2 separate regions of the Homo sapiens genome follow, and region 1 is linked to region 2. The links come from fine-mapping of genetic effects on gene expression. Tissue or cell type: whole blood. Region 2 holds a variant in brackets; the other region holds the start of a gene. All regions are shown on one strand. Distances are between the middles of the regions.

Region 1 (8,000 bases), 51 kb before region 2:
AGCACAGACGCACAGGCTGCCCAAGGGCTACTGTCAGCTCCTGCTCTTGCTGCTCCAGGCTGGGAGCCAGGCAGGGCTCTGTGGGCAGAGGGCAGAGGTCAGCAGACCCCGCAGCCCCATCTGAGGCAGCCTCCTGTGTACAAAGAACACACCGCACATGCAGGGCACAAGCACTTTGCAACGCATGCTGAAGGAGCCACCACTCCTTGACACCCACACAGCCACATGCTGCGGATGCCACACCCAGGGCAAATGCCACACTCTTGGGGCATGTCACACACACAGCATTTAGTGCACACGACAGTGGCCAAGACACACACACACACACACACGCATACACACACACACATACGGACACACACACACACAAGGCACATGCTGTTGGTGCCACATACAGGGTCATGCTGCACCGGGGCATATCACCCTCATAATGCTTATACCACACATGCTGCCTGGACCTCCTAGGTCACACACCCAGTGCACAGAACACACACACACACGCACACACACCCAGGTAAGGAGCTCACCACCAGCTCTGCAGCCCAGCTTAGGGCCCTGCGCCCTGCAAGGCCAGTCCTCTCTCGCAGACACAGTGATAGATGAATGCTTGCTGGAAGCCAGGCACTGACTGAGTCTCAGTGGTTGAGCCCTGCCCTGCCGCCACCTTCTCAGGGCCTGGGCAAGGATCCTTTCCAGCTTTGCTCAGCCCAGCAGCCCCCTCCTGGTGCCCACTCTTCCCACCCCTGCCACCCTCTCCCACCTCAGAAGCCATACCAAGCTCCACTTCCTCAGAGGCCTCCAGGGACAAGACTGGAGGCCCAGGCACACTCAGCAGGACCCCCAACAGGGCCAGCAGCAGCCGCATCTCCTTCTCACAGCTCTCAGGGACCCAAGCTGGACTTCCCACCAACTGCCTTCCTAAAATAGGGAGGGAAAAGAGCTCCTGCTACACGTGCACCTTTGTGGGGGCTTTTCCCTTATTTTGCAGATAAGGAAACTGAGACAGGAAGTGGCCAGCAGATGTGTCCAAGTCCCTGGCCAGGCTGTGGCAGTGCAGACTGGAACCAGCTCTGTAGTAGCCAGAGCCTAAGGCCTCCCCACGGTAGGTTGTGCAAGGGGTCTGGGCTGGGCTTCCTGCTCTCCCTGAGTCCTGCTGGGACCCTGGCACACGTTCACAGAAAGCAGTTTTGGGATTCTTTTTTGGAGGGAAGCAGAGAACGGAGACATATCTTCTGCATGCTCTCGGCACACATAATTTCTTTTTTGCTAAATAAATGAATTGATTGCAGAAGAGCCAAAAAAGAAAGTGAAAAATGACACAAGGTCAAACTTCAGCATCTGGATGGCATCTGATCCGATCCCCACTCCTTACAGCATTACTGACATTTCCAGGGCTGGGTGGTCACAACTGACAAGGCGGCCCCTTCCGTGGCAAGCAGGACCGCGACCCTGGATACCTCTGCTTGTTATGCACCAACTCCATCTGAGGCACACACGGTTTTGTAAAGAATACAGACCCTAATTTTCCATCTGCCAGAGCCAAGTTCAAATCCTGACTCTCACCAACTTGTAATTCCTTGTCTCTGTCTCTCTCTGGCTTACTATCCTCATAGGACTGTTTTGAGGATAAAAGAGAGAACGTGCGTCGGCACGCAGAGTGTTGGAATGTTCTCCTCCCTGTGCCCGGCCCTAGAACGGTTAACCTGTTGCCCTGGGTCTGCCCTTAGCCAGTCACCTCTGGTTCGGATGCTGTTACTGTCAGGCTGTGATGTACACACACCCCAGCTGGCTATCCTCTTCCAAATGCTACCAAGGACGCCTCTGTTCCCCAAAATAGAACACTCAGAACTGAGTCTCAGCTGGGACAAAGGAATCGGTGACCACTGCAGTCCTAGGGGCCTATGGGTGGCACTGGTGTCTCTGGATCTACCCTGCGTGGGAAGCCTATCACACCTCCTCCTCCTTGGTCACTGCCACTCCACTTCCAGTCCATCTGGCTTCCCCTGCCCCTTCTCAAGGCAGGTCATGGCCATCTCTTGCATGGGCCTCTGGAAACATCCTCTCCCTCGGCTCTTCAACCTTCATCTTCCAGCAGAGTTTTAAAAAACTACAAGTCGGCTGGGCGCGATGGTTCACACCTGTAATCCCAGCACTTTGGGAGGCCGAGGTGGGCGGATCACGAGGTCAGGAGATCGAGAACATCCTGGCTAACACGGTGAAACCCCGTCTCTACTAAAAATACAAAAAATTAGCCGGGCGCGGTGGCGGGCGCCTGTAGTCCCAGCTACTCGGGAGGCTGAGGCAGGAGAATGGCGCGAACCCGGGAGGCGGAGCTTGCAGTGAGCCGAGATCGCGCCACTGCACTCCAGCCTGGGCGACAGAGTGAGACTCCGTCTCAAAAAAAACAAAATAAAAAAATAAAATAAAATAAAAAAACAAACAAAAAAACCTGCAAGTCTGCCATGTCATGCCCCCCAGCTTGCAAGCCCTTAATGGCTACCTGTGCCCAGCAGGATCCAGCTCAACATCCTAGGGCTCCCTCTCTGCCGCTGCCTATCTCTTTGGTCACACCGTCTGCCCCTTCAGGAGCGCTGAAGCCATTGGCTTTCAAAACTGGGCACATGTGCTCTCTTGCCCATCCCTCTGTGCCCCTCATTGCTCTTCTCTACCTGACTCAGATACTGCTGTCTCTGGCCCACCTCAACTCTCGAATCCAGTCGGATCCTCCTTGGTAAAACTCCCTACCAAGCTCGGCTTGGCAGGGAGGGCAGCTCTTTGGGTACACAGCTTGGGCTGGGAGTGGGTGGGGAGGCCCGGGGAGTTTATTCCTACCCCAGGCTGCCCTGATATCAGAGTCCTTAGTCGAGTCACCCATGGCTGCTGACCGCTGACCGACCACCCCCCACGTGGGAATGGAGGGCCTGCCTTAGGCATCAGACAGTCCTGGGTTCTCCTTCAGCCTCCCGCACTCGCGCTGGAGGCCCCCGGGCACTAAGTGACTGAACTTTTCGGGGCCTCAGGTCCCTCATCTCTGCCGCCGGCGCGAAGACAGCCGCAGGGACAAGCGCGCTTGTCCTCCCCCACCCTTGCCGGGCCAGCCTGGGGGGAGGTGCGAATCAATGGGTCCCGAGGGTAGCTGCACAGGGCCAGCCTGCCCCCGCCTCGGTGGGCAATGAGTAACCAGCTCCGCGGCCGGGGTGCTCTTTGGACGGAGCGGGACAAAAGGCCCTGTGTGCACTGCGGGTTACTGATTTACCGCCCCCTCCACCCCCTGCCGCCCGGCGGACGCCCAGGTCCCCTGCGCCGGGAGGGGCAGTCCCCGTAGCCCCGCCGCCTCTCGCCCCCTGGCGGCTGGGAGCGCAGCCCGGGCCCACAAGGGTTCCGGCTCACCTCGAGCCTGCGTGACTCCGCGCCCAGCACAGGGTCCTGCTCACCTGGCTCCTCCTCACCTGGCTCCTCCGCCGCCTCACTCCCAGCTCCAGCCGGCCGCGACCCCTGCACGCGGCAGGGTCCGCAGACAGCCCGAGCGCTCCTCGGCCGGGAGCGAGGAATGTACCCGCGACGGCGGCGTGGCCGCGAGCGGCCCACCTCCTGTCCCACCCCGCCCCTCGGGCCCGCCCCCTCCTGCTCGGGCCCGCCCCTCCTTCCACGCCCCCCCCCCCCCCACCCGGGCCCGCCCACCTCCTGCCACACCCCCTCGGGCCCGCCCCGCCTAGACCAGCTCGAGCCGGAGAGAGGTGTGGCCAGGGGTGGCCAAGATCCCCGCCCACCTGGAGAGCCCCGCCCCCGACCCAGTCAGCCCACTCCCGGGACCCCGCCCCAGCCTATACACACACCCCTACACGCAACCCCCCTATACACACCCCATTCAGGCTCCGCCTCTTTCGCCCCACCCAGGCCCCAGGCCAGGCTCCTAAATTCTAGTCTACTACCCAGCTCTACTCCTTGCTTTTCACCCTTCAGGGAATGCCTGGCTCCCCTGTCTTCTGCGCAGTGCCGTGCAGCGGATAGGAGAACCCCTTCCTTCTGCTCCCTCATTTGTTCCCTGCGCAACCTGCGGAGTGATACTTACAACACAAATCTGACTGTGTCAGCCACTCCCTTAAATTTTCCTATAGATTCCCATAGCTCTTTATACATAGATTGCCATGACCCACGCCTCCTGGCTCCCACCCTGCTACTCCTGGGCAGTTTCACGTACCATTCTCTCTTCCTGGAATGGCCCTTGGTCTGGTTAATTTCATATTATTCTCAGCTCACTTCCTTCAGGAAGCCCTCTGGACTTGCAAGCTCCTCTTAGATGACGTCTCTACTGTGAGGATGGAGAAAGAAACAGGGTGAAGTGGTTCAGAGCACAGACTACAGGGCTGGACGTCATAGGCCCAGCTCTCAGCACCATCACACAAGGCCTCAGTCTTCACTGTCCTTTCAGTAAAACAGGCAAATGATAGTCTCACCCACAAGAGGTTGTTGCAAAAAGTAGACATGTTAGCAGTATGTGTAAGCCTGGCATGCAGCGCTTGCTTTGTAATACTAGCTGTAATTATTTAGGACCTGTTATTTCTTCAGCACGCTTGCCAGAATTGTAACTGAACAGTTAATTATGTAAATAGCTGTGGAATGGCCGGGCACAATGACGGGTGCCTGTAGTTCTAGTTACTAGGAGACTGAGGTAGGAGGACAGCTTGAATTCAGGAGTGTGAGGCCAGCCCTGGCAACATAGTTGCCCTGTCTCTATTTTTCAGTAGAGGAACTGTGTCCTCAGACCTCACCATTAGAGTTCAAGTGTCTGGCATACAGTAGGTGCTCCCAGATAGCTCCGTGCCCACCTGGCTCATGTTTGCCTCACCTGTAAGCACTTCTCTCCTGAGCATCTAGACTGTGGCCAAACCAGGAGGCCAGGCAGCCTCTGATCTCTGCCCATCCCTCACCTGAATCTCAAGCCTTCTCCTTCTCTTAAGGCACCTTGAGAGGAAGGGAAATGGGCTGGGTGCACCTGTGGTCCCAGCTACTTGGGAGGCTGAGGCCAGAGGATTGCTTGAGCCCAGGAAGTCGAGGCAGCAGTGAGCCGTGATCGCTCCACTGCACTGTAGCCTGGGCAACAGGCTATGGAGCGAGACCCTGTCTGAGGCTCAGGTCCTGGTTGTCCCCTCTAGCTAGTGTAGACCCTGTCTTAAGAAGCAACTTCCTTTCTCATTGTTACGCAGGCAAGTCTAGTTCTTTCCACCCTCACTCCCAAAGGGATAGTGGCATATCTTTGCATAACTGTAAGGCCCATTAAAGAGACTTAAAATTGTTTTTTTCTTTTTCTTCTTAAGCGAAAGAATGGTCTCCTCCCAAAGATAAATCAGAAAATAATTGAGGCCAGGCATGGTGGCTCATGCCTATAATCCCAGCACTGTGGGAGGCTGAATCGGGAGGATCGCTTGAACTCAGGAGTTCGAGGCCAGCCTGGGCAACATAGTGAGATCTCGTCTCTATTAAAAATATATATTAGGCTGGGCACGGTGGCTCACGCCTGTAATCTCAGCACTTTGGGAGGCTTAGGTGGGTGGATCACGAGGTCAGGAGTTCAAGACCAACCTGGCAAGATGGTGAAACCCCAGCTCTACTAAAAATACAAAAAAATTAGCCAGGCATGGTGGCATGTGCCTGTAATCTCAGCTACTAGGGAGGCTGAGGCAGAGAATTGCTTGAACCCGGGAGGTGGAGGTTGCAGTGAGCCGAGATCGTGCCATTGCACTCCAGACTGGGTGACAGAGTGAGACTTTGTCTCCAAAAAAAAAAAAAAATATATATATATATATATATGTGTGTGTGTGTGTGTGTGTGTGTGTCTGTGTGTGTCTGTGTGTCTGTGTGTATATACATACACACAGACACACCCACACATATATATGTATATTATAAATTTTTTTTTAATTGGTTATCTTTTAAAAACAATTTGTCCTGGTTCCCTTCTCTAGAGTCCTGCCTTGCTGGAGCTCCCAGGACAGATGAGGCTCCTGGCCCTGGGAGCTGCCTGCCCAGAGGGTACCTTGCCAGACCTCCCGGACTGCTGGAGGGGTTCAGCTCCCTGCCTCTGGCCCTCTGCTGGCTCCCCTTGTGAATGTGGTTGTGGGGGGAGACAGGGTGAGCCGCCAGCTGGAGCTGGACCCCACATGGCTTTCATTCACCTTCCCGGGCATTTCCTGAGTTTACCAGAGCCAAAGACAAACTAAAAGTTTTCATAGCTCAGGTCTTGCAACCTCCTTGTCTCCTGAGATGCGCAAATCCCTCAGATTTGCAACCCTCTGATGTCCCTAGGATATGTTCCCCATATCCCTTGTCTGCCTCCTCTCCCCGCACTCATAACCTTTCACACTGACCCTCCACAGAGGCTGATGCTCCCTCACAAAGTCATTCACTCATTCACTCATTCATCTGAATGATTATTTATTGAAGGTTCATTATGTGGCATCCACTGTTTTAAATCCTGGGGATAAAGCCCCGAATTGGACTCTTTTTCTTTTCTTTTCTTTGGGAGACAGTGTCTTGCTCTGTTGTCCAGGCTGGAGTGCAGTGGTGTGATCTTAGTTCACTGCAAGCTCTGCCTCCTGGGTTCAAGTGATTCTCCTGCCTCAGGCTCCTGAGTAGCTGGGATTACAAATGTGCACTACTACACCTGGCTAATTTTTATATTTTTAGTAGAGACAAGGTTTCACCATATTGACCAGGCTAGTCTCAAACTCCTGACCTCAAGTTATCTGCCCATGTCAGCCTCCTCAAATGCTGGGATTACAGATGTGAGCCACCTCACCTGGCCTGGACCCTACTTCTACCCTTCAAGGGGCTGCTGACATTGTAGTGGGGACAGACAGATAAGTAATCAGTTACAGCCTGGGAGATAAGCTGAGCCAGTCAGGGAGAGCACCTAAGCCTTTCACACTGTCTCACTCTCTTGCTGACACGCAATCTTTCACCAGTCACATTTGCAGTCTCTTTCTCAAAGACATTCAGACACGACTGGGCACAGTGGCTCACTCCTGTAATCCCAGCACTTTGGGAGTCTGAGGTGGGCGGATCACTTGAGGTCAGGAGTTCGAGACCACCCTGGCCAACATGGTAAAACCCCATCTCTACTAAAAATACAAAAATTGGCCAGGCATGGTGGCACACGCTTGTAATCCCAGCTACTGGGGTGGCTGAGGCAGGAGAATCACTTGAACCTGGGAGGCAGATGTTGCATTGAACCAAGATCACGCACTGCACTCTAGCCTGGGAAACAGAGCAAGACCCTGTCTCAAAAAAAAAAAAAAATACATTCAGACACACACACACACACACACACACACTCTCTCTCTCTCTCTCTCTCGCTTAGCAGAGGCAAGAGCCTGTCACCCTAAGATCCTGCTGTTAACCTGCCTCTGCCTCAGTTTCCCCACCCAGAAAGCCGTCATGCTCCAGCTTCCTCTTCTTCCTTTTTTTTTTTTTTTTTTTGTGGAGATGGAGCCTCGCTCTATTGCCCAGGCTGGAGTGCAGTGGCGTGATCTTGGCTCACTGCAACCTCCGCCTCCCAGGCTCAAGCAATTCTCCTGCCTCTCCTGCCTCAGCCTTCCTAGTAGCCGGGACTACAGGCGCCTGCCACCACACCCAGCTAATTTTTGTATTTTTGTAGAGACGGGGTTTCACCATGTTGGCCAGGCTGGTCTCGATCTCCTGACCTCAGGTGATCCACCCGTCTCGGCCTCCCAAAGTGCTGGCATTACAGGCGTGAGCAACGGCTCCCGGCTGCTCCAGCTTCTTTCTTCCTAGGAGTGTTGGGGGAAATGAACGTGTTCCTGTTCCTGAGCTCGTGACTCTTCAGCTCCCGTTACATGCCAGGCATCATGCTGGGTGTTGTACATGGGTTATATCCTTTAATTCTTCCACCAAGCCAAATGGCATAGGAATCCTTAGCTCTGATTTGTAGGTGAAGAAACAAGCTCAGGGAGATGGAATTACTTATTTGAGGTCATCTA
Region 2 (8,260 bases):
AAAAACTAGCCGGGGGTGGTGGCACATGCCTGTGGTTCCAGCTTCATGGGAGGCTAAGGCTGAGACAGAGACAGAAGGATTGCTTGAGCTCAGGAGGTCAAGGCTATGGCAAGCCATGTTAGTGCCACTGTACTCCAGCCTGGATAACAGAGCAAGCCCCTGTCTTAAAAAAAAAAAAGTCGATGCCCTGGAAGAGGTTCTTGGTGGGGAGCTTTTAAGATGTCTCTCCTTAATCCACAAAATCTAAAGCTTACCTATGTCAGCCCTTTTAGGCAGAAGGGCTGTATTTCTGCCCCTAATGATCTCTTTTTATTTCTGCATTTTTCTTTTAAATGGTAAATTTTTGTGAAAGACCTTGCCTGTCTTAGCTATGCTCTGAAAAACCAAGAGAAATGACTCTATAAACAAAATTGGCCCAGAACTTTTAAAAGAGGGTCAGAGGTGGCCAGGCACGATTGGTAATGCCTGTAATCTTAGCACTTTGGGAGGCCAAGGTGGGTGGATCATCTGAGGTCAGGAGTTTGAGACCAGCCTGGCCAACATGGTAAAACCCCATCTCTACTAAAAATACAAAACTAGCCGGGTGTGGTGAAGCATGCCTGTAATCCCTGCTACTTGGGAGACAGAGGCAGGACAATCACTTGAACCTGGGAGGCAGAGGTTGCAGTGAGCCGAGATTGTGCCATTGCACTCCAGCCTGAGCAACAGCAAAACTCGGACACACACACACACACACACACACACACACACACACACAAGAAGAAGAAGAAAAAAGAAGAAAAAAAAGAGGGTCAGAGGCTTCTCACAATAAGAAACCCACATGGGGAAGGTAATACCCAGGGGTCAGAGTTCAGTCATCACTTCCTCACCTGGAGATTGTGGATTTTGTTTTGTTCAAGAGATGAGGTTTCAAGCATATTCAGAATCAGACTCCCAAACCCACAGCAAGGGCAGGTAAGCACCTGCTAAATAAATGTACCTCTCTGCTGGAATGCACTCTCTGGCCTTAGAGAGTACATTCACATAGTCCACACAAATATATTTATAATACGTGCTTTGTGTCAACACTGCACTTAGTGCTGGGGGCCATACCAACAAAGAAGATGGGGTATAAAGTAAAAAATAAGCAAGACAATGACAGAGAATTAGAAATGCTATGAAAACAAGCAGAGTACGGGGTAGAGAATGACGGGGCAGGAGAGTTAGTAAAGACCATCACAGGGCCGGTTGTGGTGGCTCACACCTATAATCCCAGAAACTCAACAGGCTGAGGCAAGAGGATTGCTTCAGCCCAGAAGTTTCAGACTGTCCTGGGCAACACAGGGAGAGCCACATCTCTACAAAAATTAAAAAACACACACACACAAAAAAAAAAAACGTAGTTGGGCATGGTGGCGCATGCCTGTAGTCTTAGCTATTCAGGAGGCTGAGGTGGGAGAATCCCTTGAGCCTAGAAGTTTGAAGCTTCAGTGAGCCGTGAATGTGCCACTGCACTCCAGCCTAGGCAACAGAGAAAGACTTTGACTCTGAAAATTTAAAAAAAAAAAAAAAAATCATCATGGGGAAGTGTCAGCCACAAGGCTTACAGGAAAAGAGTGTTCCAACCTGAAACAGTATTAAGTCTGTGAGGCAGGGATGAGTTTGGCATATTCCATGTTCAAAGAATGGAGAGAAGCCCACTATGCCTGGAATATGGTGAATGAGAGAAGAATGGTAGGAAATTAAGTTGGAGAGACAGCATGAGGCCTAGTAGATGATGTTGAATGAATATAAGGCTCCATAAGCCACAGTATGAACTACGGATTTTATTGTTAGTGTAATGAGAGGTGACAAGATCTGGTTTGCCCTTGAAAAGATTACTCTGACAGTTGTTGTCAACAGACTGTATGGGGACAAGAATGGAAGCAGAAAGAACAAGGAGAAGGCTGCTGTAGTCTTCAGAGAATAGATGATGGAAGCTTGGACTAGGCAGGTTGTCAGTGGAGATGGAGAAAAGTGAATGAATTTGGAATTATGTTCCGGCAATAGGTTTGACATCTGATTTCTTAGACTGGATGTGGGGGTGGGAGTGAAGGAAGGAAAGGAGTCAAGGATAACTCCTAGGTTTTGAACTTGAACAAGTGAATAGATTAGAACTAGGGGAAGATAGCCTTGGAGGAAAAATTAAAGACTTTTCGTTATGTGAGTGTGAGTAGTCTATCAGATATATAGGTGGAGATGAGTTGGAGATTCAGATCTGTCAGTCACTTGAAGCTCAAGGGGGAGGTCAGAGCTGGAGATATAAATGGGGAATCATTGGTATATCAATCATATTGAACACTGTGGGGCTGGAAGAGATTGCCTAGCGTAGATGAAGAAGGAAAGAGGTTCAGAGACTGAGCCTTGGGACCCTCCCAATTTTGAAGTCAGGCAGAGGAAGCGAAGTTGAATATAAAACAAAGTGAGTACAGGGTGGAACTTCTGGCCAAGGCAGAGTGAGGAGATCTCCTGCAGAAGCAACAATAAAACAGGACAAAACTGACAAAACCGGACAAAACTGACAAAACCAACCACTTCAGCACTCTGGAAGTTAACCAAAGGGACTTAACAATCCGAGAGCAATTTTGTGCTTGCAAAACTGCTGAACTTCAGGTAAGAACAGTAGGAATCAGCGGCTTTTTTTTTTCCCCAGATGGGGAAAAACAAACAAACAAACAAAACCTCAGGGTTTCCCAGGCTGCAGTGCCCACACTGGAGTGCAGTGGCATAATGTCAGCTCACTGTAGCCTCAATTTCCCAGGCTCAGGTGAGGCTGCTCTCAGCCCTTCCTGCAATCGGTGTAGAAACTCTGGCAAGAAGGTGCTAGCCATGAAAACAAATAGCTTCCATACAGAAGGAAGGAAATCACTTGATTTCCTTTACATGTAGCAATATTGTTGATGGAAATGATGATCTCCAAGGCAGTAAGCAGGAAGAGTGAAAGGCTTCACTGGCCGGAGGTGTGCTCATGGTTGGGGCAAGTGTGTTCCTGGCTGAGACTGTGTGACAGCGGAGACCTGAGAGGGCCCAAGTTAGCCACATACTCATGGCCACCCTGAGGCTGCGTACACACACAAAAGAGATGCAAAAGGACCTCGTGGGAAGGGTAGATCTCAAAATGACTTGAACTTTGATTATGCTTCCCTACCAACACACAGATCCAACAATACAAAATCAAGGGCTTATAGGCTCCAGGTGTTTAGAACAAGATCTTGTTGAATCCCTAGTTAATCTGACCACTAAGCAACATAAACACATTAAAGTAGAAATTATAAAAGGGAACCAAATTGGGAATGTTTGCTTTTAAAGCCTTTGCCCACCATGTAAGCAGTCTGACTGCTCTGAGGCCACCAAGCTGTGAGAAACCCCAGACTATTTCATGCATCAAGACCACATGGAGAGTTCCTGACACCACATGAAAAGAGAGATGTCTGGCCAGCCCCCAGAGGCTCCACCCCGCTGTTGTTTCAGCTCTAGCTCCCAGATGCTCCATTTCCCTGCTGTTTCAACTTGAGCCACCATCTGACTGCAACTGCATAAGAGACCCTGAATCAGAACTATCCAGCCAAGCCTTTCCCAAATTCCTGGCCCACAAAAACTGAGAGGTTTATGAGGTTGGAGGAAGCTAAGGCCCACAGAGGGAAAAAAAAAAAAAA[C/AC]TTGGATAAAATTGTCAATTAGGCCGGGTGCGGTAGCTCACGCCTGTAATACCAGCACTTTGGGAGGCAGAGGCGGGCGGATCACGAGGCCAGGAGTTCAAGACCAGCCTGGCCAACATAGTGAAACCCTGTCTCTACTAAAAATACAAAAAAGTTTAGCCCCAGGGCATGGTGGCAGGTGCCTGTGTCCCAGCTACTTGGGAGGCTGAGGCAGGAGAATCGATTGAACCCAGGAGGCGGAGGTTGCAGTGAGCCGAGATCATGCCACTGCACTCCAGCCTGCGCGACACAGTGAAACTGTCTCAAAAAAAAAAAAAAAAAAAAAAGTCAATTAGCCGGGTGTGATGGTAAGGCACTTGTAATTCCAGTTACTCGGGAGGCTGAGACAGGAGAACTGCTTGAACCCGGGAGGCGGAGGCTGCAGTCAGCCAAGATTGCGCCATTGCACTCCAGCCTGGGCAACAGGAGTAAAACTCTGTCTCAAAAAAAAAAAAAAATTGTCAAAATTCTGAGATGGCAGCCTGACTACACATCCTTTTTGCCATGATATCTGCACACAACTTTAATCCAACTACCAACTATCTCTCCAGGGTGCAAAAGATTTGATATGGAAAATGAGGTGCTTTTCATTCATTCACTGGAGAGGCAGGGCGTGGTGGCTCAGCCTGTAATCCCAACACTTGGGAAGGCCAAGGCAGGTAGATTGCTTGAGGCCAGGAGTTTGAGACCAGCCTCGCCAACATGGCAAACCCCCGTCTCCACCAAAAATAAAAAAATTAGGCAGGCATGGTGCTATGTGCCTATAATCCCAGCTACTTGGGAGGCTGAGGCACAAGAATCACTTGAACCCAGGAGGTGGAGGTTGCAGTGAGCCAAGATCGTGCCACTACACTTGAGCCTGGGCGACAGAGTAAGACTCCATCTCAAAAAAAAAAAAGAAAAGAAAAGAAAAGAAAAAGAAAATCACTAGAGAGGCTGAAAGTATGATACTAGGTTGGGCCTCCAGAAACATCTCCAGGAATAATGCATACATGTTCCAATAGGTGACCTACAGTCTCTGAGGCTCCTTCACAGCTCTGCTGGAAGCAAGATGCTTTGACTGTAACAACTTCTCTCTCAACCTATGAAGCTGGACAACGGATGCTGGAAAACTGATGTAGTTCCATGACCTTTTTTGACAGCAACAATAGCCAAGAGGCACAGAAGTATGGTCTTTACTGCATTTCTGCATTCTACATCCTATGAGATGTTACGTATTCACAGGATTTAATTTATATCCACATGATAGCCAAGTAAAAGATGTATGGGGCAGAGGCTGAGAGATGCCATCTAGAGTATGAAGCACAGGGCTGCTTTTCACAGGGTCGATGAAGTAGGAACACAGAGAACTTTTGTGGGACAGCAAGATAATTAATAAACTTAACAAATTTAAGGGTTGGGTGTGATGGTTCATGCCTATAATCCCAGCACTTTGGGAGGCTGAGGTGGAAGGACCGCTTGAGCCCAGGAGTTCAAGAACCAGCCTGGGCAACATAGTGGGACCCTGTCTTTACAAAAAACCAAAAAAGATTAGCTGAGTGTCGTGGTGCACACCTACAGTCCCAGCTACTTGGTAGGCTGAGGTGGGAGGATCGTTTGAACTTGAGCCCAGGAGGTCAAGGCTGCAGTGAAGTGAGCTGTGATCACACCACTGCACTTCAGCCTCCATCCTGGGTGACACTGCAAGACCTTGTCTCAAAATTAAAAAAAAAAAAAAGAAAGAAAGGAAATTTAAGCCAGGTGTGGTAGCCTGCATGCACTTGTAGTCCCAGCTATTCAGGAGGCTGAGGTGGGAGGATCATTTGAGCCAGGAGTTCGAGACCAGCTTAGACAACATGGTGAAACCCCATCTCTATAAAAAACTACAAAAAATTAGCTGGGTATGGTGGTGCACACTTGTTATCCCTGCTACTCAAGTGGCTGACGTGGGAGGATCACCTGAGTTTGGGAGCTCGAGGCTACAATGAGCCAGGATTGCACTGCTATGCTCCAGCCTTGGTGAGGGAGTGAGACCCTGTCTCAAAAATGACTTGCTATTCCTTAGGCCTACATGTGACCTTAGAATCTACAATTGAGCTCTGTATAAATTCATCAACTGGGCCAGGTGCGGTGGCTCACGCCTGTAATCCTAGCACTTTGGAAGGTCGAGGTGGGTGGATCACGAGGTCAGGAGATCGAGACCATCCTGGCTAACATGGTGAAACCCCATCTCTACTAAAAATACAAAAAATTAGCCATGTGTGGTGGCGGGTGCCTGTAGTCCCAGCCACTCAGGAGGCTGAGGCAGGAGAACGGCGTGAACCCAGGAGGCGGAGCTTGCAGTGAGCAGAGATCATGCCACTGCACTCCAGCCTGGGCTACAGAGTGAGACTCCATCTCAAAACAAAACAAAAACAAAAACAAAACAAAACAAAACAAAAAAATTCGTCAACTGACTGAAGGTGATCCTTAGGAAGATGAAACCTATTTACTACCCAGCTTATTAGGAGGCAAAGGGTTTTTAGGTATAGCTATAGTCAGAAAGCAGAAAATAAAAGATCCTAGGGCTGGGTCAGTGGCCCACGCCTGTAATCTGACACTCTGGGAGACTGAGGCTAGAGGATTGCTTGATGCCAGGAGTTTGAGACCAACACAGGCAGCAAAGTGAGACCTCATCTTTACAAAAAAAATTAAAAAATTATCCAGGTGTGGTGGCACACGCCTGTAGTGCTGGTTACTAGGGAAGCTGACATGGGGGAAATCACTTGAGTCTAGCAGTTCGAGGCTCTGGTGAGCCATAATTGCGCCACTGCACTTCAGCTGGGTGACAGAGCAAGATCCCCCATCTCAAAAGCAAAAACCCCTCAAACAATCATAGGAAAGGGAGGTTGGGTATAATCTACCCATGGATGAGAATGGTTAGACAATGTAGTATTTTAATGGGCAGTATGGCCTAAAAGAATGAACAAGACGGTCCTATTAAGTCTACTTAGCACTGGTACTTCCATTTTGTGAGTCCATACTGTGTTTTTGTTTTTAATTTAATTTTTTAGAGTCAGAGTCTCATTATGTTGCCTAGGCTGAATTCAGACTCCTGGCCTCAAGTGATCCTTCTGCATCAGCCTCTCAAGCAGCTGGGACTACAGGTGTGGGCCACCATGCCTGGCCAAATCCATACTGCTGATGGTCTCAAGAAGCTCAAATTTCTATCCAATGAAAAGGGCATGAAGAGGCCGGGCATGGTGGCTCACACCTGTAATGTCAGCATTTTGGGAGGCCGAGGCGGGCGGATCACCTGAGGTCAGGAGTTTGAGACCAGGCTGGCCAACGTGGTAAAACCCCATCTCTATTAAAAAGTGCAAAAATTAGCCAGGTGTGGTAGAGGGCTGGTAATCCCAGCTAACTCAGCAGGCTGAGGCAGGAGAATCGCTTGAACCCAGGAGGTGGAGGTTGCAGTGAACTGAGATTGTGCCATTGCACTCCAGCCTGGGTGACAAGGGCGAAACTCTGTCTCAAAAAAAAAAAGCTGCGTGCAGTGGCTCATGCTTGTAATCCCAGCATGCCAAGACTGCGCCACTGCACTCTAGCCTGGTGACAGAGCAAGACTCTGTCTAAAAACAAAAACAAAAACAAAAAAAGGCTGGGTGCAGTGGCTCACGCCTGTAATCCCAGCACTTTAGGAGGCCAAGGTGGGTGGATTACCTGAGGTCAGGAGGTCAAAACCAGCCTGACCAACATAGTGAAACTCCATCTGTACTAAAAACACAAAAAATTAGCCAGGTGTGGTGGCGCATACCTATAATCCCAGTTACTCGGGAGGCTGAGGCAGGAGAATTGCTTGGATCTGGAGGCAGAGGTTGCAGTGAGCTGAGATTGTGCCATTGCACTCCTGGGCAACAAGAGTGAAAATCCATCTCAAAAAAAAAAAAAAAAAAAAAAAAAAGAAAAAAGAAAAGGCATGAAGAAAGCAAATGTAAGGGTACTGATGATCTGCTACTAATAAAACAAACAAATGGAAATTCTGGAGTTGAAATTATAATACAATAAATTTGCTGGAGGAGCTCAACAGCAAGTTCAAAATGGCAGAAGAATCAGTGAACTTGAAGATACAGCAATAGAAATAGCTGATCTGAAGAACAAAGAGAAATAACATTGAAGAATAATGAACAAAGCTTCAGAGATTATGGAAAAACTTCAAGCATACTAACATATGTGTAAGGAGAGCCTCAGAAGAAGAGAGAAGAGAGAGAGAGTAGAAAAAAATATTTGAAGAAAATGTCCAAAAACCTCCCATATTTGATGAAAAACATTAATCTACACATTCCAAAATCTCAAGGAACCCAAACTAGGAAAAATGTGAAGAGAGCTACACCTAGACACATCACAAACTGTTGAAAGGCAAAGACAGAAAATCCTGAAAGCGGTGAGAGAGAGAGAAAAATGACTCATCATGTACAGTGAAATAATTCAATTAATGACAACTTCTTATTTGAAAACAATTAAGGCCAGAAGGCACTGGAATGACATATTCAAAGTGGTGAAAAAGAATAAAAATGTCAACTAAGAAT

The links. PIP is the estimated chance that this variant, and not a neighbour inherited with it, causes the effect.
Region 1: FGFR4 starts here. The variant in region 2 is fine-mapped to the expression of FGFR4 in whole blood (INTERVAL, PIP above 0.99). The same link has a PIP of 0.9 or more in prefrontal cortex.

What each region holds. Positions count from the first base shown.
Region 1 is chr5:177,082,468-177,090,467 of GRCh38, reverse strand. FGFR4 (fibroblast growth factor receptor 4) reads right to left here and starts at 3,553. Exons shown (of 18, transcript NM_213647.3): 1 at 3,391-3,553; 2 at 775-918; 3 at 1-78. The coding sequence starts at 865. RefSeq lists an enhancer at 3,037-3,487, silencers at 3,183-3,642, 3,893-3,942 and a promoter at 3,453-3,672.
Region 2 is chr5:177,031,374-177,039,633 of GRCh38, reverse strand. The region is part of intron 1 of ZNF346 (zinc finger protein 346); the gene reads right to left. Among named protein-coding and RNA genes, the nearest start is that of ZNF346, 13 kb to the right of the region's middle. RefSeq lists a silencer at 895-944. The variant C/AC (reference allele first, on the strand shown) is at 3,675.